2 separate regions of the Homo sapiens genome follow, and region 2 is reported to be linked to region 1. The links are microRNA targets in miRTarBase. Many come from high-throughput screens and were not tested one by one. Region 1 holds a microRNA gene; the other region holds the end of a gene's coding sequence.

What was found. Region 1 holds the annotated microRNA hsa-miR-500b-3p (GCACCCAGGCAAGGAUUCUG, at 928-947, opposite strand). A microRNA usually pairs through its seed, bases 2 to 8, with sites in the 3' UTR of a target mRNA and lowers its output. Matches are read on the target gene's strand: a 7mer-m8 pairs with bases 2 to 8, a 7mer-A1 pairs with bases 2 to 7 and ends in A, and an 8mer does both.
Region 2: miRTarBase lists NLN as a target of hsa-miR-500b-3p. The part of its 3' UTR that is shown has no 7-base or 8-base seed match.

The regions. Positions count from the first base shown.
Region 1 is chrX:50,008,537-50,011,668 of GRCh38, reverse strand. It overlaps MIR500B (microRNA 500b), which reads right to left and starts at 997; the gene lies at 919-997. The region is part of intron 3 of CLCN5 (chloride voltage-gated channel 5); the gene reads right to left. It overlaps MIR362 (microRNA 362), which reads right to left and starts at 2,705; the gene lies at 2,641-2,705. It overlaps MIR501 (microRNA 501), which reads right to left and starts at 1,947; the gene lies at 1,864-1,947.
Region 2 is chr5:65,822,417-65,825,548 of GRCh38, reverse strand. NLN (neurolysin) reads right to left here. Exons shown (of 13, transcript NM_020726.5): 13 at 1-2,768. The coding sequence ends at 2,634. Among named protein-coding and RNA genes, the nearest start is that of NLN, 100 kb to the right of the region's middle.

The sequences.
Region 1 (3,132 bases):
CATTTAATCCCCATCTATAAGGGAGTTAAGGAAGCTCACTGGCTTGCACGCTGAGAATGGGAGAGAGGAGAGCACAACAGGCTCCATCTCCTACCCTTTCAGTAGGTGGGGTTCTCTGCATGCAGGGCCATGTCTCTGAGTGTGTCTGGTGTACAAGGATTGGGGACATTTGAGAATTTCACTTGAGCAGAACCTGCACATGCTTGTGCATGCAGACTGGGTAACAAGGAACATATAGATCTACTTCATTCTTTTGAACAGTGGCCTATTCATCCACAACATTTATGTATAGTGTGTTTATGAGTCCCTACCAGAATGTAGGGTAGCAACCTGTCCATTTTGATCCCTGCTATATCCTTGGTGATGAACATAATACCTGCTGTCTAATAGACACTTGAGTATCTGTGGAAGGAAGAGGAGGGAGAGTTGATGTGCAAAAGCTCTGTCCTTTTAAGTGTAGACAAGGCTTCTTCCCTTGGAATTCTTGAAAAGGGACAGTGAGTCAAGGCAGTACTGGCACACAGGCTGAAAGAATGTGAGTGATGCACCAGGTCAGAGGGACCACTCTGTGAGGACATGTCTCTGTGGATGTAACCAAGTCAGGCCCTTTCTCTTGCACACAGCGTATTTATGTGTGATTGTACTGAGGTTTAGTAGATTCTCCAACATGTATCTGTACCCCACCCACCCTGTACCCCACCCACCCTCAGGACATGCAGATATAATGAATGAGAAGGAGTCCATTCTCCTCCCTGAACTGTACACTCCATGAAGGTAGGGAACCAGATATGGCTCATTCTCTTGTGGGCCAACTGCCCAGGACAGCACCTGCAATAGAGTAGGTAGGTACTCAACAAATAGTCATAGAAAGGATGGAAGGAGGAGGTAGAAGTGCTCTGTCCTATGCGAAGATGTCACTCCCCCTTGCAGAATCCTTGCCTGGGTGCACTGCATTCAGAAAGCACTCTCACCCAGGTAGCAAGGATTAGAGAGGGGGAACCAGGACAGGAGATTCCAGTACCTGTACACCTCACATGTGCATCTAACAAGAAGGCTTGCTGTTCTTGCCTAGTGCATTAACCTTGCATTGAACTAAAGTAGAGAGAAGTTGCTTCGACAAGTATCAGGCTGGGTGCAGTGGCTCACACCTATAATCCCAACACTTTGGGAGGCTAAGGCTGGTGGACTGCTTGAGCCTAGGAGTTTGAGACCAGCTTGGGCAACATAGTGAGACCCCATCTCTACAAAAAATAAACACAAATTAGCCAGGCATGGTGGCACAAGCCTGTGGTCCCAGCTATTTGAGAGGCTGAGGTGGGAGGATCGCTTGAGCCCAGGTGGTTGAGGCTGCAGTGAACTGTGATGGTGCCAGTGCACTCCAGCCTGAGCAACAGAGCAATACTCCATCAAAAAAGAAAGAAAAGAAAAGAGAGAAGAAAAGAAAGGAAAGGAAAGGAAGGAAAGAAAGAAAAGAAAGAGAAAGAAAAAGAAAAGAAGGAAGGAAGGAAAGAAGGAAAAAACAAGAAACAAGTATCAATGTGACAGCAGGAATGAGAAGACTCACACTTATGGGTGGGTTAAGGTGGGAAGAGGGTAGATAAGAAGTTCCTATGTGGCCCACTCACCCTCAGTATATGCAGGGGCAATGAGTGGTGACAAAGTCCATTCTCCTCTCAGGCTATAATATCCAGGAAGGCAGGGGCGAAGTCTGCCTTGTTCATTTCTCTGTGTCCAATGCCCATCATGGTGCCCAATACATATTATTTGTGGAAGGAAAGAATGAATGAGGGTCAGAGAGCAGGCAGGCAAGCAGCAAGCAGCTGAGAGGTGACATACAGATCTTCTGTTCTCCACGCAGAGGGGGCTCACCCTCTCAGAATCCTTGCCCGGGTGCATTGCATTCAGAAAGCACTCTCACCCAGGGACAAAGGATTAGAGAGGAAGAGCAGAGCAGAAGACTCAGGCACCTGCACCCTGCATGTATATCTCCATATATATTTGACTTTCATGGTCCCATTCCTGCAAAGTATCTCTGTGTGCATTTGCTAAGACAGATGCCTCTCCTCAGGGATAGCATATGTATTCATCCCCCTGCACAAGGCCACATGGACATGCCCTCTCAGACAAAACCTCAGACTAGAATGAAAGATATGAGTGGCATCTTTTTCAGATCACACTTGAGGGTCTGCAGGTGCTGGATGTATTTGGGGCCTAGCAAGGAGGTTGGGACAAACTGTATGTGGGCACACATGTACATGCACATGTTGGAAGATGGTACAGAAAATTGGGATACTTCATTCTCTTCTGTTTCTCTGGTAAACTATAAGCTCACTGAGAGCAAAGACTGGCTGTGCAAGTCTCATCACCCAATGTGTGTTTCCCCATTACAGTATCTGACACATAGTAAGCTGGGAGTAAACAGAAAGCTCATGCTCTCAAAGAGGTGTAAGCTTGTCCAGGGCAATGATGAAGTTCATTCTCCCACAGGTGCCCTCTACAGAGCCCAGGGACCTTAGCTGTCTTATTTACCGTTGTATCTCCACCACCCAGTGCAGGATCTGGCACCGCATAGCAAACACAAACATGTGAAAGAAGGGGACAGGTTGTTGGTCCTTCTACATGTAGACAAGGCTCAGCCTCTTTGAATCCTTGAATAGGTGTGTTGCACTGAAATAGCACTCACACCTAGGTTCCAAGGATTCAAGAGGGGGAGCAGACAAGAAGGCTCTGACACCTGCCCTTTTTGTGTGTTTGTATGTGTGCATGTGTAGCTATAACCAAGTCTCACTCTCATGTATATACAGTGTCATTTACTAGGGACTTTACAGAAAGGCAGAGAATCTTTTCTCCTGCAGAGTTCCATGTGAGATCAGAGAAGATTCATGCTTTTGTGTATGTTTGTGGGTGACAGTGGTAATGAGAAGTCCACTCTGTGGCCCACCCACTCTCAGGGCATGTAGGTGTAATGGATGATGAGGAATTCCATTCTTCTTCCTCAACTGTAGCTCCATGAGGGTAGGGACCAAGCATGTCTTGTTAGCAACTGTATGCTCATTACTCAACTTAGTATCATATACAGAAAAGGTGGTCAATAAATACTTGTGGAATGGATGATAGGAGGACAGAAAGACG
Region 2 (3,132 bases), not on the chromosome of region 1:
AAAGTCTACATCAGGTGGCAAAACGTCAAGACATTTCTCTTCTCTGCAGCATCGTAAAACTAAACCTTTAGGATCATGCCTACTATCCATTTGCATAAGATGTTGAAGATTTTATCCTTCACAACATAACAATGCCTAAAAAAAAAACAAAAAACCCGAAAGAGGCCTAAATCCCCTGGATCAATTACCAGGAGAGACCTTATTATATGTGGCTCAGTCCATAAATCTAAAGTGTACATTTGTCCAATTACAATTTACATAGTTATCCACCATTTCAAGCATGTCAGTGATATTCTCTGCTCTGATCTGGAAAAAAAGAACAACTAGACGGATGACCACACTAAAAAAAAAAAAGTTAAGTCCTTTCTTTTGAATTATGCTAGAGAATTTTTAAAAAGTCCTTTCTTTTAAATTATGCTAGATAATTCTTTGAGTATTAATTTTTTTTGAGACTGAATCTCACTCTGTCGTCCAGGCTGGAGTGCAATGGCATGATCTCAGCTCACTGCAACCTCCACCTCCCGGGTTCAAGCTATTCTCCTGCCTCAGCCTCCTAAGTAGCTGGGACTACAGGAACCCAACATCATGCCCAGCTTTTTGTATTTTTGTAGAGACAGGGTTTCACCATGTTGACCATGCTGGTCTTGAACTCTGACCTCAGGTGATCCTCCTGCCTTGGCCTCCCAAAGTGCTGGGATTACAGGCATGAGCCACTGCGCCCGGGCTGAGTTTTAATTTTGTGACTGCTCTTTGGTAGATTTTAAATATTAGAGGTAGGCCCTAAATAGAAAGAACACCATGGTGCTTTTGCTCTCATGCATTTCGGTTTTAACGTTAAAGTATGAAAGAAATATGAGTTCATTTTCATGGATAATAATATAACTTTATTGTGTGCAGCCTTTCCACACCAATTTAGTTTTTCTATGAAATAAGATTTCAAGTGGTAAAGTTACTGTTAAGGAGACACACTGGAAAAAGCTGAAGAGTTTTTTTGTCTGAAACTGAAAAACAGAAAAGTCTAGGGGGAAAGATGTGAGAAAACTACTATAGGCTACAAAGACCACAAAAACAGTTTTGGGGATTAGAAGGGGGTGACATTGAGTGAGTGTGTGGGAAGAGAAGGGCTGGGCAAATTATCTCAGAAGAGGGGGTAGTAGGATTTCAGGTGGATGTTTAAGGTATTTGCTTGGCAGATATAATCTAGGAATCTCCTAGCTCTTGCATTTCCTGCTATCTGTAACTTTATTATGTAGTATAATAATTTTTTATTTAGCACAAAGTTCATTTGGACTAGAGAATCGGAAGGTGCTAATTTTGTCCCCGGCTAGCAAAGTCATACCTGAGGTATGCGCTGGAAAACAACTGGAAGACCTAGGCAGGGGAATTCAAAGTTGTTTTTTTTTTAAATTTTATTATCCTGTCTTGGTTTCCTTATTGAATAGATTTCCACAGGAAAAATACTGTGAGTTTACTGATCTGCTGCAGAATTGGAATTTAGACTCACAATAAAGAGAGTTAAAGATAGATCCAAAGGTTCACTTAAAATAAAAATCACCAGACAGAACAGGCTACTGAAGAGTCTCTTCCCCGTGGTTAAGTTTCATCATACACATAAGGCTTTGGAGCAGCTGTCCTCAAATGCTTCTATCCAAAACCCACTCCTCTTCTGGAGTTTCTGAACCCTTTATGTTCCACATCCACCTCCTCTCTCTTCCCATGGCTCTCTACAGAGCCATTTGTGACATGTCTACCTGACACTTTTGGGGACGTGGTAAGTAAAAGAGGCAAAGTCCCTAACACTTATTAGAAACGTGAGAAGAGAAAAATGTGCTTGGACTTGCTTTAGTATTCTAATTGGCACACATGCCAAAAGACTAACGATCTTGTATGCTGAGGTGGAAATGAGCCTCTAATAAAAGCTACGAAATCCTCTAATACAAGATACAAAAACTTATACATTACACCAGTCTAGCTGAAACATAATTTTTTGATACTCTTTGACTGAACTTTAGACAGAAAAGACAAAACTGAAATGGAGGAACGTAATTTAAGTGTGGCAGAAAGTTGGGAATCATGCGGCCTGATATACAAAGATAAATGCATCACTGAGGCATATTCCCCTGGCCTTGAGGTATGCAGGCAAAGGAGAGGTCACACCTTCCTGGGAGACAAAGGATCAAAGTTGACACAGAGCTCCAAGAAAATATTTACCAGAAGAATGTGATGATTCATTTATCAGTCCAGAAATCCCAAGTACAAAACTTCAAGATACAAGAAGGATCAAATTATATCATATATATGATTCAATTTAAAAATTCTTAGCCCTCTTATATCATATTATCTAGATTATAATAGTAAAAAATCAAGTTACATTCATATGAAACTTTCATAAAAAGAAATCAAATCCAGTTTTATGAAATTTTATAGTACAATTACTTTCTAGTGGGTCTTTTCTTAGGTCACAGTATTTATAATTCCATTTACATCTTTATAATTTTTAAAATTAGAAAACAAAAGGATGTCAATAGAAATCTAAATTTTCACTTGCAAAACTCCCTTCAGTTTCCAGGCCAGTAACACATGGTGATGTCGACTTGTCCTCCAGACATGGACGGCTACCAAAGATCCCCAGTTCACGGAGCATGCAGGCCTCTACTCATTAGGAACGCTTTTTGGTTTGGCTCACGTTTCAAGAAATTGTGGAGCATGTCCATGCCGTCCAGAGATCCCCCAGGTTTCAGGATTAGGTTTCTGTATTTCATTCCAACCTAATAAAATAAAACATCATACCTAATAATTCATGGTTCTAGCAATTTTCCAAATCTCTAGATGCAAAAGAGGAGAGGGTAGGGGTGAAGGAAAAAGGACTTTAGCCTTACTCTGTCTAGATGTTTTCTCTTGCTCACAAACAGCTCTGTAGTATTTATTTATTTTGGTAGCTAAGAGATTTGGAGCTTAAAACTTCAGGTCTTCTACACTGTCCTTTATTATGGTCTTGTCTCCTTAGATTCTAAGCAGTGAGCTGACAACATGAACAAACAAACAAAATATAGCCAAATGGAATATACAACAGGTTCCTATTTGCTATGCTATCTCTCGTGATTTCAAAAGGCTTAGAAAGCAAGTGTTCAC